Regions from separate parts of the Homo sapiens genome. Here regions 1 and 2 are each linked to region 3. Evidence: fine-mapped expression QTL. A gene starts in region 3. Each other region holds a variant in brackets. All regions are shown on one strand. Distances are from middle to middle. Region 1 overlaps SPINT2 (serine peptidase inhibitor, Kunitz type 2). Region 2 holds the start of RASGRP4 (RAS guanyl releasing protein 4). Region 3 holds the start of CATSPERG (catsper channel auxiliary subunit gamma).

Region 1 (6,391 bases), 63 kb after region 3:
AATTTTTGTCAGCTGGGCGTGGTGGCTCACACCTGTAATCCCAGCACTTTGGGAGGCCGAGGCAGGTGGATCACTTGAGGTCAGGAGTTCGAGACCAGCCTGACCAATATGGAGAAACCCCGTCTGTACTAAAAATACAAAATTAGCCGGGCGTGGTGGTGCATGCCTGTAATCCCAGCTATTCTGGAGGCTGAGGCAGGAGAATCGTTTGAACCCAGGAGGCACAGGTTGCAGTGAGCTGATCCATTGCACTCCAGCCTGGGCAACAAGAGTGAAACTTCATCTCTCAAAAAAAAAAAAAAATTTTTTTGTCAAGCTGGGCATGGTGGCTCATACCTATAATCCCAGCACTTTGGGAGGCCGAGGCAGGAGGATCATTTGAGGTCACGAGTTCAAGACCAGCCTGGGCAACATAGTGAGACCCTGTCTCTACAAAAAATAAAAAAATTTTTTTGGCCAGATACAGTGGCTCACACCTGTGGTCAGGATTTCAAGACCACCCTGGCTATCATGGCGAAACCCCATCTCTACTAAAAATATAAAACTTAGCCCGGCACAGTGGCGCGCGCCTGTAGTCCCAGCTACTCGGGAGGCTGAGGCGGGACAATCACTTGAACTCAGGAGGCGGAGGTTGCAGTGAGCTGAGATCGCACCACTGCACTCTAGCCTGGGCGACAGAGCAAGACCCTGTGTCAAAAAAATAAGGAAAGAAAAACTCTATTGGCTATAAATGCACAGAGTAACAAAACAAAACAAAACAAACAAACAGAAAGAATGTTTATTTAGCATACTGTAAGTTAAAACATTGGAAACATTTAGGATTAAAGTGTTAATTTCTGTGCAAAAGAATTTCTAAGGGGAGTTTGAACCGTGCTTGTGGTCTTCTCACCATATAACTTACGATACAGAGCAAGCATCATTTCTACACCTTTTCCAGCAATTGCCAAACACTTTTCTAGATCTGGATCAGCTTTCAACGTTTTATCCTTTGCTCTTTCAATGTCACAAAATTGCTCGCAGAGCTGCTTCACAGAAGAGGCTCTGCCAGTGTTGCTTCCTCTGGGCCACCATCCAGAAAGTCACAACTGCCGCCCTCATTTCCGTGGACAAGAAGCCTTCACAAGCTCCCTGGCTGCAGATCCAGAGTCTCTCCAGTGGCAGAGGGAAGTGCAACACCTCCCGTAAGCTGGTCTACCTCTCCATTTTATGTTTTTTTTTTTTTTTAAGACAGTCTCACTCTGTCGTCCAGGCTGGAATGCAATAGTGCGATCTAGGCTCACTGCAACCTCTGCCTCCCGGGTTCAAGTCATCTCCTGCCTCAGCCTCCTGAGTAGCTAGGACTCCAGGAGTGTACTACCACACCTGGCTACTTTGTGTATTTTCAGTAGATAGGGTTTTGCTGTGCTGGCCAGGCTGGCCTCAAACTCCTAACCTCAAGTGATCTGCCTACCTCGGCCTCCCAAAGTGCTGGGATTACAGGCGTGAGCCACCTTAGCGAAAAACACTGCAGAACACCTTTCCTAAAAACAACTAACATCACTAAAAACAAGTCTCCTCTTTTCATTAAAAACACTTGGAATTCTAAGGATAGTAGCCAAGGAGAAGTTATTTGCTATAAAAATCCCCAGACATGCCACTCCTTAGTATCAAAAAGCAAAGAAAGCTCTGAAGAGTCATTTAATCCAAGAGTTTCAAAGAACTCCATCTCAAAAAAAAAGAAAGAAAAAACATTGTTGTGAAGATTAAAGGAGTTTTTAATCCATTATAATTGCTTAAAATAGTATTTAGCACACAGCTTTCTTTTTTTTTTTGAGACAGGGACTTGCCCTGTCACCCAGGCTGGAGTACAGTGGTACAATCTTGGCTCACAGTAGCCTTGACCTGTGCTCAGTGACCCACCCACCTCAGCCTCCAAGTAGCTGGGACTATAGGCGTGTGCCACCATACCCGGTTAATTTTTGCATTTTTTGTAGAAACGAGGTTTCACCATGTTGCCCAGACTAGTATTGAAGTCCTGGGCTCAAATGATCCACCCGCCTCGGCCTCCTGAAGTGCTGGGATTACAGGCGTGAGCCACCGCACCTGGCCTAGCACAAAACTTTTAACAAATAGTAGATATTGTATCTTTACGATTGTATTTTTTATGAAGACAGGACTAATATAGGGACAGTCAGAATAAAGAGAATGACACATTTCACTACAGAGTCCAACCAAGCATGCTGACGGAGAGGATAAGGAGGAAGAGGATATACAGGGAAGGCCAAAAGTACAACCTCAAGCCAAACCAATGATGTCTTATCTTCACCTGGAGGAAGACAATGGCAAACCACCACACGGGTCAAAGTCCTGCATGGCTACAAGATCAGGATATGCTGGGCTGGGAGGCAGAAAGCCAGAGGGAGGGACTGGTGGAAAAAACAAATACCAAAACAAATGAAGCAACACAAACCCTCCATGCTTTCCACACCTACTTGCACTTGCACTTCAAGCATCTTTTCACCAGGGAATGAATGAGAGCATCTTAAAAAGAGGTACTGAGGCCGGGCACAGTGGCTCATGCCTGTAAGCCCAGCACTCTGGGAGGCCGAGGCAGATCACCTGAAGTCAGGAGTTCAAGAAAACAGGTACTGAATGACAGGAGGTACTGAAGCCTATTTCAATTCTACCAAGCCAGATTCCAAAGGTGACATTTACTGTGTAATCAGCCTTATTTTAAGATGATCTATAAATCTACCTACTTTGGTTAGCTGGCTAGGTTCTATATATTTGAGTGTTTCTGTTTCCAGTACAGAAAGCTACCAACTACCCATCTCCTCTAGGCTTGGGTGTCTGGAAGTTTTCATTATTGAGACAATTCAGAACCTTTCAAAAAAAAACCTCAGGTATTTATGAGGAAAGAACATTTACAATTACAAATCCTACTTAAGTTATGAGGCTCATAAAATCTTGGTGTTTCAGATATAAAATCTTGGTATTTTCTATATAAAATATTTAGATATAAAAGTTTACATTTCAGGCCGGGCACGGTGGCTCACGCCTGTAACCCCAGCACTCTGGGAGGCTGAGGCAGGTGGATCACCTGAGGTCAGGAGTTCAACACCAGCCTGGCCAACATGGTGAAACCCCGTCTCTACTAAAAATACAAAAAAATGAGCCGGGCGTGGTGGTGCATGCTTGTAATCCCAGTTACTCAGGAGGCTGAGGCAGGAGAATCGCTTGAACCCAGAAGGTGGAGGTTGCAGTGAGCCGAGATCGCACCACTGCACTCCAGAGTCTGGGCGACAGAGACTCCATATCAAAAAATAAAAAATTTACATTTCATAACCTATCAGCACAATGCA[A/G]CTCATCACTACTCATGCCTACCATCACTCCATATTCCACTCTGAAACAAGACTATTAAGTCTACCCTCGCCTCAATCCATAACAAGAACCCGAGCAGTCCATCTGAATAGCTGGGAAGGAAACAATAGTTTCAAATCTTCTAAGAAACTGTCTGCTGTTAATTCGCATTCAGCCATTCTTTACCTTGTGCAAATCATGGACCATTTTCAGAACTGAGGAAAGCTCTTGGACCCTCTCTCTGGAATGGTGTTTCTCAACCTTTTTTCATTACTACCTTCCCCCTAAGACTTTTTGGAAATGTTTTTCCTAATCGCCCCACAAAATTTTAACACCACAGACATACTATATATCTATTCATGTAGAGCGGCCCTTCAAAAGGTCACAAACTATTATAGTATCTTTTTGTTCCCCCACCCCTTTAAGAACATGCCATACACTCTAAATGACAGACCCTGGCATACACATGGACAAACTATCACATATAAAATTGTTTTGAGATGGGGTCTCGCTCTGTCGCCCAGGCTGGAGTGCAATGGTGCGATCTCGGCTCACTGCAACCTCCACTTCCTGGGCTCAAGCAATTCTCCCACCTCAGCCTCCCACATAGCTGGGACTACAGGCTGACTAGTTTTTTGTATTTTTTGTTTCACCATGTTGAAACTCCTCAGTCAAGCAATCCACCTGCCTCAGCCCCCCAAAGTGCTGGGATTACAAGCGTGAGCCATTGTGCCCAGCAGTATCACATAAAAGTGAAGGACTTCAGATTAAGGGACTTCTGAGGCCATGGACCCTGGGCCCAGTCAGGAATCACCCTGAGCTCCATCTCCAACACGTGTGAGTAAAACAACATGTGAATTCTTGCCCTCTTTTTTTTCTGAGATGGAGTCTCACTCTGTCTCCCAGGCTGGACTGCAGTGGCGTGATCTCGGCTCACTGCAACCTCCACCCTCCGAGTTCAAGCGATTCTCCTGCCTCAGCCTCCAGGCGCCTGCCACTGCACCCGGCTAATTTTTTTTTGTATTTTTAGTAGAGATGGGGTTTCAACATCTTGGCCAGGCTGGTCTTGAACTCCTGATCTCGTGATCCACCCACCTCGGCCTCCCAAAGTGCTGGGATTACAGGCATGAGCCACTGTACCCGGCCAAACATGTGGTGGTCTCTTGTAAGTGGCTCCTCTCACTTAGCATAACATTTTTTTTTTTTTTGAGAGAGTCTTGCTCTGTTGCCCAGGCTGGAGTGCAGTGGCATGATCTCAGCTCACTGCAAGCTCCACTTCCTGGGTTCACGCCATTCTCCTGCCTTAGCCTCCCAGATAGCTGGGACTATAGGCGCCCGCCACCACGCGAGGCTAATTTTTTTGTATTTTTAGTAGAAACGGGTTTTCACCGTGTTAGCCAGGATGGTCTCGATCTCCTGATCTCGTGACCCGCCTGCCTCGGCCTCCCAAAGTGCTGGGGTTACAGGCATGAGCCACCGCGCCCGGCCTCGCCCTCATTTCTAAAATGGCTTCTAATCATAAAAAGCATATTTCAAATAAACTTCAAAATAAGTAAACTCTAGCTCCTACTTCACCTGCCAAGGAAAATAAAACAACAAAAAAAGGTAAATAAACTCCAAAGTTCCTGGGCCTCAGCATCAACATCAGCACTTCTTTACAGGGAGTTTTCAAAAAGATGTTGCCAGAAAAAAACCATGAAATGACACTTGTGAGGAGGATCTTGCAGGACATCGGAATCCACACTCTAATGTCCACATTAGTCATGGCCGGTGGGCCAAGGCCTCCTGGGGCTAATGGAGTCATTTCAGTGTGACTCCTGCTGGGCTCTCTCCCGCCTCACATGAGCCACAGGCTTATCACCCCTTATTCAGCCTCCCCTGTAGCCTCCAGACATGGCAAACAGAAGCTCTGCATGCATTCTGCAAATGGCTGGGGATGGGTAAAATGAGAAACAGGGTGGGGAGCAGGGTGAAAGAGGAGAAGTGTGATTTCTCCATTGCAGGCTGAGCTCTCAAATACTGACTGGGCAAAGCAATGTTTCCAGTGGAAAGGGGCCAGTCTCCCGCGGTGACCTGAAGGCAAGGCCCTCAACCTTCTTTAGGAACTGCAACCATTTGAACCTCAGAAGCCCCCATTTTCAGTGCTAAGCACACCAACCCTGACACTCATCACCAGACATACATTCATCTGTTCATTTATTGTACTGTCTTCCTCTCATTATGACACGTCTGCCACGGATGGGGGAGGGGGTCTATTTTGTTCAGTGCTCTAATTTGAGTGAGTCAGTGCCTGGCAATTGGTGGGTGCTCAATAAACATTTGCTGACTATATCAGTGAATAAGATTTCGAACTACCCTGGAACCAAACTGCCTTGCCTGCAAGTAGGACAAGCACTCCTTCTATGGAGGATAAGAATAATGTGAGAAGCTGTTTTAGAGAATTCCCAGCTGATCGCCAACACCAGCTTTACTTTAGCTCTTCTGTCATCTTATCTCTGACCACCAGGGTCACGACTATCCATGGGGGTGAGGAGGAAAGTAAAGAAAGGGTGGCAACTAATAACACGTCTGTGGAGTCTGCTGGAAAGCTTACAGCAGTTAAGGTTCTACAGACACTATAATTAACCTGAGAGGTCCATGCATTTCGAAAATCCCTTGGAAGTGCAGGAGAGGGCTGGGCCACGTGGCTCGAGCCTGTAATCCCAGCACTTTGAGAGGCTGAGGTGGGCAGATCACCTGAGGTCGGGAGTTCGAGACCAGCCTGGCCCACATGTTGAAATCCCATCTCAGGCCGGGCGCGGTGGCTCACGCCTGTAATCCCAGCACTTTGGGAGGCCGAGGCGGGCAGATCACAAGGTCAGGAGATCAAGACCATCCTGGCTAACACGGTGAAACCCCGTCTCTACTAAAAATACAAAAAATTAGCCGGGCGTGGCGGCAGGTGCCTGTAGTCCCAGTACTCGGGAGGCTGAGGCAGGAGAATGGTGTGAACCCAGGAGGCGGAGCTTGCAGTGAGCCGAGAACGCGCCACTGCACTCCGGCCTGGGCGACA
Region 2 (6,391 bases), 91 kb before region 3:
ACCTGACCTATATTCTAGATATTAATATCTCATTGATTTTTAAATATTGCAAACACCTTTTCCCCTTCTGTCATCTGACATTTGTCCCATGGTGTCTTCGTTAAAAGAAAATCTGCCTGTAATCTCAGCACTTTGGGAGGTCTAGGTGAAAGGATCCCTTGAGCCCAGGAGTTTGAGACCAGCCTGGGCAACATAGCAAGACCCCATCTTTAAAATTTAAAAGAGAAAGAAAGAAGAACAGCAACAAAAGAAGAAAGTCTGTATTTGCATGTTATCATGTCCATCATTTTTCTGCCTTAGGAGTTTCTGTGGTTTGATTCAGAAGTCCCTTCCTTTGTAGTCATCAGCACGGGTATTGTGGGTATTCTTGGCCAGCCCGAGGACTAAGGCTGCCTGTGTACAGTAGAAACAAGTGCCAGGATTTCTGACCTCCTCCTTGAGGCTTTTCTGGGTCCCCAGGGCCTGGAGACACTGCCACACTACGAAGTCTCTGCTCAGCCAGGATTGTTAAGTCACATTCAAGATGCAGGTGCTACAGGAGATGGTCTGAGAGAGTCAGACAGAACACCATGAGGCCAGGGGGAGAGAGGGTGAAAACGGGCAGGAAGAGAGAGTCTGAAGCTATGGTAACATCGCGTGATGGAAAAACTAAAGACGGCGAGTTCAGTGACTGTCTAAATGTTCTGCATTGGAAAAAATATACATCCACGGTTCTTTCTTTTAGTGAAAAAAAAAGTGGAAAAATATACTTCTGAGAGAACGATTTCAATGAATTGCTAACATGCTATGTTTGGTAGAATCACAGTAACTACTATGACCCATTTATTCCACTCCTGGGTACTGCCCTACAATATGGTACACTCTATGTTCATCAAAAGTCAGATGCTCAAATAGTCACAGCAGCCCCAACCTGGAAACAACTCAGATGTCCATCACAGGAAAATTGATCAATAAATCACGGAGGCCGGGGACAGTGGTTCACGCCTGGAGAGTCAGCAATTTGGAGGCATAGGAAGGACGATTGCTTGAGCCTAGGAGTTCGAGATCAGCCTAGGCAACAAAGTAAGACCCTGTTTCTACAGGAAAATAATAAAAAAAAAATTAGCAGAGCACAGTGGTGTGCACTTGTAGTCCTAGCCACTCAGGAGGCTGAGGTGGGAAGATGGCTTAAGCCCAGGAGTCCGAGGCCGCAGTGAGCTAGGATCTCGCCACTGCACTCCAACCTTGGTGACAGAGGGAGACCCTGCTGTGGAGTCTTAATTAAGAAAAAAGAGTCAGGTTGGTAGGACCAAATAAAAATAAAAAAAAAAAACAGAGAAGCTATAAGTTTGTCTTTTTTTTACAGTCTAGGACATATAGTCCTCTTGTATAGATAACTCACTTAACTTAAAATGTTTTAGTGTCTAGTTATTACCAGACTCTAGACTGATGAAAAATAGAACTTAGTGCTGTGACTCACGCCTGTAACCCCAGCACTTTGGGAGGCTGAGGCGGGTGGATTATTTGAGACCAGGAGTTCAAGACCAGCCTGGCCAATATGGCAAAACCCCGTCTCTACAAAAATTAGCTGGGTGTGGTGGCACACACCTGTGATCCCAGATACTGGGGAGGCTGAGGCAGGAGAATCGCTTCAATCGCAGAGGTTGCAGTGAGCTGAGATCACGCCACTGCACTCCAGACTGGGCGACAGAGCAGGACTCTGTCTCAAAAATAAAAAAAAAAAATAGAAGTTAGCATGCCACCAGCCCGCTTAGTCACTATCCACAACACCTATCTCTAAATAAATAAATATATATATATAAGTCATGGAATTGTCACATAATGAAAGACTATATGGAATTATTATTATTATTATTATTATTATTATTTTGAGACAGAGTCTCGCTCTGTCGCCCAAGCTGAAGTGCAGTGGTGCAATCTCGGCTCGCTACAACCTCCTCCTCCCGGGTTCAAGCGATTCTCCTGCCTCAGCCTCCCAAGTAGCTGGGATTACAGGCACGCACCACCACACCTGGCTCATTTTTGTATTTGTAGTAGAGATGGGAGTTTCACCATGTTGGCCAGACGGGTCTCGAACTCCTGACCTCAAGTGATCTGCCCATCTCAGCCTCCCAAAGTGCTGGGATTACAGGCGTGAGCCACCGCGCCCGGCCAAAAAAAGGAATAAATTATAACCAAATATGATAACATGGAAGAACTGCAAAGACAAGACGTGGAGAGAAAGAACCCAGATTCAATACAGGAGTCCATTTTTATCCAGCTCAAAACAAGACAAAACTACTGCGCCAGACTTCGGGCGAGTGGGGATCTGTGGGAATTCGTGCTGGGAAGAAAGACAGGGGGCTTGTGGAGGGTGAGAATGTTCTGTGTCTGGATTTGTATGAATGTCACACAGGTTTGCTCAGTTGGTGACATTTCATCAACCTAAATACTTAATGATTCGTGATCTTTTTTGTACTTCAATTTAAAAAAAAGTGTCGAGCATGACACATTTAGGTAAAAAGAAAAAAATGCACACTCAAAAGAAAAGTCTGTTTCTAGGAGCACATGTTTATATGATGTGCTTAAACGCACAGACAGCAGTTTGGACGAAACTCGACAACGTGTCATATTGGTCACACCCTGCTTAAGAAAGGCAGGGGATGGGGAGGGGCTTCCCCAAGGCTTTACCTCCATCTCTAATGTTTTTTGATGTGTGTGTGTGTTTTTTTTTTTTGTTTTTTGTTTTTTGAGACAGGGTCTGGCTCTGCCACGCAGACTGAAGTGCAGTGGCACCATCATGGTTCACTGCAGCCTCGACCTCCTTGGGCTCAAGCAATCTTCTAGCCTCAGCCTCCTGAGTAGCTGGGACTACAAGTGTGCA[T/A]CACTACGCTCAGCTAACTTTTTTTTTTTGAGACAGAGTTTCGCTCCTGTTGCCCAGGCTGGAGTGCAATGGCGCGATCTCGGCTCACGGCAACCTCCGCCTCCTGGGTTCAAGCAATTCTCCTGCCTCAGCCTGCCGAGTAGCTGGGATTACAGGCATGTGCCACAACGCCTGGCTAATTTTGTATTTTTAGTAGAGACGGGGTTTCTCCATGTTGCTCAGGCTGGTCTTAAACTCCCAACCTCAGGTGATCCGCCCACCTCGGCCTCCCAAAGTGCTGGGATTGCAGGAGTGAGCCACCACACCGGCCTAACGTTTTACATTTTTTGTAGAGACGGGGTTTTGTCACGTTGTTCAAGCTGGTCTCAAACTCTTAGACTCAAGCGATCCGCCTGCCTTGGCCTCCCAAAGTGCTGGATGACAGGCGTGAGCCCCTGTGAGCCCCCGTGCCTGGTCCGGTATGTAATTTTTTTTAAGGTAACAGTGGATTGTGTGAGGATTAAATGAGTTAATATTTTTAAAGTCCTTACAGCAGTGTGTGGTACACAGTAGGTGCTATGTGGAGGTTTGTTACAATAAAGTCAGAAAGTGAAAATGTTTTCCAGGGTACAAATGGTATCACTTAAACTAGGAATAAGAGACGCCTATGAAGAAATATACAAAATACTATGTCTTGTGAGTTTCCATTCAAACCTTCATGAATTATATATATGAATATGTCCTTCTAGACAGACAGACTTATCTTTTTGAGTGAGTGTGTGTGTTTTTACATAAATATCAGTCATGCTTTAAAAAGAAAAGCCCCTTCTTTTATTGAAGTATGACAGTGACGGGTCTCGACACCGAAAGATGGGGGAGATAGAGAGCCCGCCGGGGAGCTTGAGGGTGGGAGAGCCAGCGATGCCGGAAACCTCAGCAGAAGGGATCCCCGTGTGGGGGAGGGGGGCCTTCGGTCTCTCCCCAGCCTCTTCCTTCCCCCTGGCCTGAGGGTGGGTGGGGAGGGGCAGTTCCTCTTTCCTTCCCAAGCACCGAGGAGGCCCCAGCTCCCTAGGGGCTGAGAAGCTGGAGTCCTGGGCAAGGGGAGGAGCTGAGCCCTACTCTTGCAAGACCCCCGGCCTCCTCACCCCACGCGGGAAGCATGAACAGAAAAGACAGTAAGAGGTGAGAGGACCCTCCCCAGGGAGCCCGGCAGCACCCTGAGGCCTCCCTCTGCATGGGAGGGCTGGGGAGATCACTCGCCAGGGTGGCAGGATTCCTGACTTCTTTGGGATCAGGCGCAGGGGGGCCAGGTGGATGCTTCAGGGAGTCTGGAGCCAGCTACGGCTGCAGTCGCTTGTATGTGGCATCTGTACCGTGTTGTCCCTGGAGTTTGAGCTGCTCCGTGCCCCTTTTCCACTCCTCATCACCCCACCTCCATCCCTGGCCTGGGCTGAGTGTCTCTGCCCTCCCTGGGGGCTTCCTGGTTCCCCATCCCCGTGGACTGGAAACTCCAGGCTCCTGCAGGGCCTGGCCCAGGAGAGGGGAGTGTGGCACAGGGCAAGGCGACTCCCCTGCCTCTTAAACCACTCCTGGCTGTTCCAGACCCCTACAGGGGGCTGCAGGACAGGGCCTAGTGGCTGGCTGTGCGGCCGGTTCTGGAATGGGCTTCATCTCCTGGGCAAGCTGGCCCTTCTGTCCCCACAGAGGCAGATGGTGGGTGGCTCCCTAGCCTGGGTAACTCCTCCTGCCACCCCCAGCACCACTCTGATGGGCAAAGGGCTTTCCTCCCCACCCAGCAGTTTAGTGGTAGACTCCTGGCTGCCTAATTTCCTAGCTGTGTGACCTTAGGTAAGTCACTTAACTGCTCTGTGTCTCGGGTTTTTCTTCTGTCAGTAGAACAATCATATCCTCTACCTCGGAGAGGCCTGTAAGTACTCAATGAGACACTCTAGACCAGTGGTTCTCAAACTGGAGCGAGCCTCAGAACTGTCTGGAGGGCTTGTAAAATACAGGTTGCTGGGCTTACCTTTAAAGTGTTTGGTTTTTTTTTTTTTGTTTTTTTTTTTTGAGACGGAGTCTCGCTCTGCCGCCAGGCTGGAGTGCAGTGGCACAATCTTGGCTCACTGCAACCTCTGCCTCCCGGGTTCAAGCGATCATCCTGCCTCAGCCTCCCAAGTAGCTGGGACTACAGGTGTGCACCACCACACCCAGCTACTTTTTTGTATTTTTAGTAGAGATGGGGTTTCACCATGTTGGGCAGGATGGTCTCGATCTCTTGACCTCGTGATCCACCCACCTCGGCCTCCCAAAGTGCTGGGATTAGAGGCATGAGCCACCACCCTTAGCCTTAAAGTGTTTGATTTTGTAGGTCTGGGTTGGGACCTGAGAATCTGTATTGATATCCAGTTCCCAGGTGATGCTTTTGGTACTAGCTGGGTGCCCACACTTAGGGAAATGCTGACTTAGTTAGAATGCTCCTTCCTTAGCCTAGGACATATATAATACTTTAAAATGTCCCTTCTAGTAACGATGGCTCATGCCTCTAATCCCAGCACTTTGGGAGGATAAGACAAGGAGAACTTGAAGCCAGGAGTTCTAGACCAGCCTGAGAAATATAGTGAGACCCCCCCCCCCATTGACACACACCCAAACACACACACAAAATTAGCTGGGTATGGTCGTGCACACCTGTAGTCCCAGCTACCTGGGAGACTAAGGCAGGAGGATCACTCGAGTCCAGGAGTTCAAGGTTACAATGAGCTTTGATTGCACAACTGTGCTCCAGCCTGGGAGACAGAGCAAGACCCTGTCTGAAAAAGGGTAGAGGTGGGAGCCTGGCGTGATGGCTCACACCTGTAATCCCAGCACTTTCAGAGGCAAAGGTGGGAGGATCAGTTGGGCCCAGGAGTTTGAAACCAGCCTGGCCAACATGGTGAAACCCCATTTCTACTAAAAATACAAAAATTAGCTCGGCGTGGTGGCACGTGCCTGTAGTCCCAACTACTTGGGAGGCTGAGGCAGGAGAATTGCTTGAACCCGGGAGGTGGAGGTTGCAGTGAGCTGAGATCGCACCACTGCACTCCAGCCTGGGTGACAGAGTGAGACCCTGTCTCCAAAAAAAGAAAGAAAGAAAGAAAAAAGAAATCCCTGGAGAAGGTCCAAGGACTATCCTCATTTTTCCTTCGAGGAAATTGAGCCCCAGAGAAATTAAGTGACTAACACGAAGTCACAACAGCTGGCAAAAATTTCTGGATTCTACTTTCGTCTGAAGCTTGGATTCAGCAGCCTCCCTGCTCCCACCATCCTTGTCTCTCCATTACCCTCTTCCCCTATCAGGAACAGCAGCCTCTGGGAGGCACCAGGCAGAGGGAGAATTATTATTACTATTATTACTATTATTATTATTATTATTTTGAGACTAAGACTCGCTCTGTTGCCCAGGCTGGAGTGCAGTGGCACGATCTCGGCTCACTGCAACCTCCGCCTCCTGGGTTCAAGCAAGTCTTCTGCCTCAGCCTCCTGAGTAGCTGGGATTACAGGAGCCCACCA
Region 3 (6,391 bases):
GCCTGGGCGACAGAGTGTTAGGAGAAGCTGAGGCAGGGCTTGCATGTCTGACATAATGTAAAAGAGTCTTGGAACATGTCCGGGGTCCAGGGTCTAAAACCCCTTGTGGCCTTTGGAACACCAAGCTCTGTGCTAAAGGGTGGAAGCCTACCATCATGCACCATAATCTAAGCCAAGGGCATAAAATCCCTCATGGCCTCGATAGAATCCAGGGCTCATGGCTCTGGAATGTGTCTAGACTTGCTTGCTCCTTGCGCTCCCAGGATTGATTGTATCTTGAGTTAAAAGAACCTGCTCTCCATTATCTCAAGCAGCAGAGCAAATGCTAAACCATCACAGCTGTAAATCATGTGCTTAATGCAATGTGCCCTTTTGACCTCCACATTCTCACCACCTGTTTCTTTGTTGGATTACCAATAAATAGCGTGGGCTCCCAGAGCTCGGGGCTTTAGCAGCCTCCATACACTAGCAATGGCCCTCTGGTCCCACTTTACTTCTCTCTCTCAAACTGCCTTTTTCTCAATCCTTTGACTCCGCCGGACTTCGTCGCCACCCCCTCCCCCCGACCTGGTGTTGGGTCTGATCACCCCAACAACAGAGTGAGACTCCATCTCAAAAATTAATTAATTAATTAATAAAAACAAAGACAGGGTCTCACTCTGTCACCCAGGCTGGAGTGTAGTGGCATGATCACAGTTCCCTGCAGCCTCAACCTCCTAGGCTCATTATGATGATCCTGCCTTAGCATTTCTACAGGTGGGAGCCACCATGCCCAGCCAAATTCACCTAGGCTAGTCTTGAGCTTCTGGATGCAAGTGATCCTCCCGTGCTGGTGTGGTGGCGCACAACTAGTCCCAGCTATTCAAGAGGCTGATGCAGAAGGTTCACTTGAGCCCAGGAGGTCAAGGCTGCAATGAGCTGTGATTTCACCATTGCACTCCAGCCTGGGTAACAGAGTGAGACCCTGCCTCAGAAAAATAACAAAAATAACAATGGTGAATTTTATGGTGTGTGAATTATATATATGGTAAACTCCTACTCATAGCTTTAAAAACCTGGAACAAGGCCGGGTGAGGTGGCTCACGCCTGTAATCCCAGCACTCTAGGAGGCCGAGGCGGGCGGATCACGAGGTCAGGAGATCGAGACCATCCTGGCTAACCCGGTGAAACCCCATCTCTACTAAAAATACAAAAAATTAGCCGGGCGTGGTGGCAGGCGCCTGTAGTCCCAGCTACTTGGGAGGCTGAGGCAGGAGAATGGTGTGAACCCAGGAGGCGGAGCTTGCAGTGAGCCGAGATCGCGCCACTGCAATCCAGCCTGGGCGGAGCGAGACTCCGTCTCAAAAACAAAACAAAACAAAAAAAACATGGAACAAAAAAGCTTACTTGAGCACCTACTAGGTGCTTGGTGGGTTACTGGGAACTGTACACAGACAGCCTTCTTGAATCCTTAAAGCCACCAGGGTTGGATGGTGCTACCACATATTGAGATGGGGGCCAGGCACGGTGGCTCACACCTGTAATCCCAGCACTTTGGGAGTCTGAGGCAGGTGGATCACATGAGGTCAGGAGTTTGAGACCAGCCTGGGCAACGTGGTGAAACCCTGTCTCTACCAAATACAAAAATTAGCCGGGCGTGGTGTCACATGCCTGTAGTTCCAGCTACTTGGGAGGCCGAGGCAGGAGCATCGCTTGAACACGGGAGGCGGAGGTTGCAGTGAGCCGAGATCGCGCCACTGCACTCCAGTCTGGGCAACAGCGCAAGACTCCGTCTCAAAAAAATAAAATAAATAAATAAATAAAAATGTTAGAGGTGGGAAAACCAAGGCTCATAGAATGAGCCTATCCGTGCTGCACCCACTCACCTTTTCCTCGCAGGAGTAGTTGATCTTCAGGTAGTAAGGGAAGCCCAGGTATTTCTGCAAAGAGAGGTTAGGCCACACGTCCAGAAATGAGTGGAGTGCGGGTTCAAAATCCCTCTGGTTCACTTGACCCTGGTCCCCTCACCTCGCTCGGGTCGATGGGTGAGTCCACCAGCATGTGAAACAAGCTGCTCACTGTGTCCACGGGCTCTTGCTCAAAGAAGCTGTCGCTCACACCACTCTCGCCTACCCTCTTAAACTCGTTCAGGACAACCTGCCAGGTGCATTCCTGGAAATCCTTGATCGCCCACAGCCTCCACGACGCCAGGAGCACTGCCAGCAGGGCCCACAGCACCTGCACGACTCGGACTCTGGGCCACGGAGGACCGGCAGGGAACATGGCTGGGCCGCACATAACGTGGCTAGAACCTGGAGAACGCAGGAGTCAACACCCACGCGCCGGACAGCTCTCTGGAGCCCACTTTTAAGATTCCACCTCGCTTCTGCGCCTCTCACAGCACTTGCTCCTGGCCACGCCCCGGCTCTTGCTCCTGGCCCCGCCCCTGCACTTGCTCTTGGTCCCGCCCCTGCTCTTGCTCCTGGCCCTGCCCCCGCACGGACTTTTAGCCCCGCCTCTGCTCTTGTTCCTGGCTCCGCCTCTGCACTTGCTCCTGGTCCCGCCCCTGCTCTTGCTCCTGGCCCTGCCCCCGACCCTCGTGGGTATCGCACCTCTGCTATTGCTCCGGGCCCCAGCCCTACTAATGTTTCTGGCCACACCCCTGCTCCTCCGCCTCGTTCCGCCCCGCCGCCTCCACGTCTCTTCCTTTAACTTTATCCTCACCTTGCTCCTTATTCCGCCCCCTCCCTGTATTCCACTCTTGCTCTTCACCTGGTCTTGGTTTCTATTTCTCGCTTTGACAGTCCCCCTCTTAAGTTCCCCCGTACTGCTTCTGCCTGCGATCGCACCCGTGTACTTCCACCCGGCTGTGCCCCAACCTCTTGCCCCACCCTCGCACTTCTCTTGGTATCGCCGCTTTCTCCTCGCTCGGGGTCTGCCCAGGGGCTGGGTACTGTACCTGGTCTCGCCCGTCTCCGGGCCCCGCCCCTGCTCTTGCTCCCGGCCCCGCCCCTGCTCTTGCTCCCGGCCGGGCCCCCGTTTCTCGCCCGGGGCTTGCTCCTCACTCTGCTTCCGCTCCTGACCGCGCCCCTACTCCTCCACTTGGTCTTTATGGACCCGTTCCTTCCCCGGGTTCTCGGCGATTGGTTCTTCCCGCGCGGGCCCGTCGCCCCGTCCCGCCCTCTGGTAACGCCCCTCCTCCTCGCCCTGCCCCTTCTCGATGAAAACTGTCTCTTCGCCTCGGGATCTTTCCTCGCCCTTCGTTGTTTCCTCGCCCCACACCTTCTCCTTCCACGCCGGCACCAGCTTCTTAGCCGGCACCTTCTTGAGTCTCACCTTCCCCTCGTACCGCGACACCTTCTTGCCCCACTTCTTACTCTTCCTTCCCATGCCATTAACACCTGCCTGCTCTATACCCCGACTCTCCTGCCCCGCCCCGCCCTTCGCCCTTCACGTTCGGCTCCCCCTTTCCCTCCTCTGCCAGCTCCCACGACTCTTCCCCTCTTTCCCTCCTCTCCCAGCTCCCACGACTCTTCCCCTCTTTCCCCTGCCTCTCCCCTTCTCGCCTTCCCCTTCCCCTCCCCTTCCTAGTTCCTCCCCGTCCCCGGCATCCCCCCGCCCCTGGATGGCACAGCTTTTTCCCCGGCCCCGTGGTACCAGTCACTTGGTTAAAACCGGTCAACTGTCACTCGGCCGCACCAGTCCCGCCCCTCTTGCCCGGTCTCAAAATGGCCGCCCACACTTCCACAGCCGACTTCCGCCTTTGCAGAGGCACGCCCTCCTCTCACGCGGTCTCCAAGGTGACGCGCAACCCCTAAGGCACCGAGGGCTGGAGGCTGTCTCAGCACTGAGGGCGCGGGGCCTGGTCGGCAGAGGGTGCTGGAGACTACGTTTGTGCCAGGAAGGCCTTCAAGGAGTTTCTATTGGTTGTTCTGGCAGCAAGCACGGTCCCTACTTGTGCTTCCTACCCAAATATATATATATATATATTTTTTTGAGACGGAGTTTCGCTCTTTCTCCCAGGCTGGAGTGTGAAGTGGCGCGATTTCGGCTCACTGAAACCTCCGCGCCCCTGCCCCGGATTCAAGCGATTCTCCTGCCTCAGCCTCCCGAGTAGCTGGGATTATAGGCTCCCGCCACCACGCCTGGCTAATTTATTTTTTGTATTTTTAGTAGAAACGGGGTTTCATCATGTTGGCCAGGCTGGTCTCGACTCCTGACCTCAGGCGAACCACCCGCCTCGGCCTCCCAAAGTGCTGGGATTACAGGCGTGAGCCACTGCGCCCGGCCCTACCCCAAAATTCTACTCCTTAAAAAAGTGTGGTTTCCTGGAGACCTTGTGAGAATGAATAGGCTGCTTAGCACCGTCCTCTACAAAACAGGACAAGGACAGCCATCCTATACTGTTGTGGGAAGTGTGCCCGGCTCAAGTAAAATATTCATTAAGTTAATTTTCATTTGCATTCTGATGCCTTACAGGTAAGGATTCAGGCCATGACTTTTTGATGAACTCCAGACCAGACGTTTAACCCAGTGGTTTTCAAATTTGAGCATGCATTAGACTCACCTAAAAGGCTGGGTAAGCCAGGTTGGTGGGTACCACACCCTGAGTTTTTGTTTTTGTTTTAAAGATGGAGTCTCTGGCTGGGCATAGTGGCTCATGCCTATAATCCCAGCACTTTGGAAAGCTGAGGCAGGCGGATCACTTGAGGTCTGAAGTTGGATACCAGCCTGGCCAACATGATAAAACCTTGTCTCTACCAAAAAATACAACAATTAGCCGGGCATGGCGGCGGGCACCTGTAATCCCAGCTACTCGGGAGGCTGAGGCAGGAGTTGCTTGAACCCAGGAGGCGGAGGTTGCAGTGAGCCGAGATCCCTCCACTGCACTCCAGCCTGGGCGACAGAATGAGACCCTGTCTCAAAAAAAAAAAAAAAAATTAAGCCAGATGTGGTGCTGCACACCTGTAATCCCAGTACTTTGGGAGGCTGAGGTAGGAGGATCGCTTGAGGCCAGCCTGGGCAATATGGTAAGACCCTGTTGCTAACAATTTTTTTAAATTAGCCCAGTGTGGTGGTCCATCCCTGTGACCCCAGCTACCTGGGAGGTTGAGGCAGGAAGACCACTTGAGCCCAGGAGTTTGAGGCTGCAGTGAGCTCTGAAATACACGGAAATGCAGTGAGCTGTGATCACACCACTGCATTTCAGCCTGGGCAAAAGAGCAACACCCTATCTCAGGTTAGCCTTGAATTTCAGGCCTCATGTGAGCCTCCCATCTCAGCCTCCTGAGTAACTACCTGGCTACTTCCAGAATTTTTCATTCAGTAGATCTGGAGTGGGGCCTGATAATTTGTATTTCTGGCAAGTTCCTAGGTGATGCTGATACTAGTGGTCTGGAGACCACACCTTGAGAACCAGTGCTCTAGAACCTTCCATGACCCTCTAGGCCCTCAGGAAAACTTCCAAACCCCTCGGTTTCCAGAGCCCCTCATACTCTCCTCCCTGTCATTCTATCTGGCTCATCTGCCCTCTCCCCCTTAGACCTCTGTGGTCCACAGTCTGGTCACATGGAGCGACTTGAATATCCTTGGTCAGGTGTGAGCCATGCATGCTCCAGACCTGTGCAGACTCAGTAATGCCCTCTGGAATACCATTCCATGCTTTTTAACAGGGCCCACCACTTTCCTTCCTTTAGGTCTTCTCTGTGATACATGACCAGCCCTCATCCTACCTCTTGGCCCCTCTAGGCCACTCATGACTGGAAATGGGTGTTTCTTTTCCACTGGATCACAAGCTCCGTGAGGGCAGGGTGTATGGCTTTCTCTGCCTCTGTTGTCCCCCAGCCCTGCCAGGCACCGCATATAATAGTTGTTTTATGTAAATGAACCGATGATGGTGGTCTATCCTTCCCACCCCAGCCCACCCCCGCAGGCTAGGGAACGGTGACATCTTCTAGGGGAAGAAACTCAGTAGCCATGTACCAGAGCCCTTTTTTTTTTATTTTGTTTTTTTAGAAACGGGGTCTCACTCTCTCACCCAGGCTGGAGTGGAGTGGCGCAATCATTGCTCGCTGCAGCCTCGAACTCCCAGGCTCAAGTGATCTTCCCATGTCAGCCTCCCAAGTAGCTGGAACTGCAGATGCGAGTCATCATATCCAGTTAATTTGTTTTATTTTTACTTTTTTTTTTTTAGAGATGGGGGTTTCTTTTTCATCTTCTTTTTTTCCCTTTTTTTTTTTTTTTTTTTGTTGAGACAAAGTCTCACTCTGTCGCCCAGGCTGGAGTGCAGTGGTGCCATCACAGCTCACTGCAACCTCCACCTCCCCGTTTCAAGCAATTCTCCTGCCTCAGCCTCCTGAGTAGCTGGGATTACAGGCATCTGCCACCGTACCCGACTAATTTTTATATTTTT

Evidence for each region. PIP is the estimated chance that this variant, and not a neighbour inherited with it, causes the effect. A credible set is the group of variants that fine-mapping cannot tell apart.
Region 1: its variant is the best candidate, but not a certain one, in a credible set for the expression of CATSPERG in whole blood (TOPMed, PIP 0.72).
Region 2: its variant is the best candidate, but not a certain one, in a credible set for the expression of CATSPERG in prostate (GTEx, PIP 0.67).

The regions. Positions count from the first base shown.
Region 1 is chr19:38,269,646-38,276,036 of GRCh38, reverse strand. All of the region lies in intron 1 of SPINT2 (serine peptidase inhibitor, Kunitz type 2), which reads right to left. Among named protein-coding and RNA genes, the nearest start is that of SPINT2, 8.3 kb to the right of the region's middle. The variant A/G (reference allele first, on the strand shown) is at 3,342.
Region 2 is chr19:38,423,702-38,430,092 of GRCh38, reverse strand. It overlaps RASGRP4 (RAS guanyl releasing protein 4), which reads left to right and starts at 3,874. Exons shown (of 17, transcript NM_170604.3): 1 at 3,874-4,024. The coding sequence starts at 4,002. RefSeq lists silencers at 217-417, 3,939-3,998 and an enhancer at 2,532-3,046. The variant T/A (reference allele first, on the strand shown) is at 2,864.
Region 3 is chr19:38,333,121-38,339,511 of GRCh38, reverse strand. It overlaps CATSPERG (catsper channel auxiliary subunit gamma), which reads right to left and starts at 3,682. Exons shown (of 29, transcript NM_021185.5): 1 at 3,637-3,682; 2 at 2,008-2,291; 3 at 1,866-1,919. The coding sequence starts at 2,277. RefSeq lists silencers at 2,895-3,064, 3,435-3,514 and enhancers at 3,635-3,844, 3,649-3,943.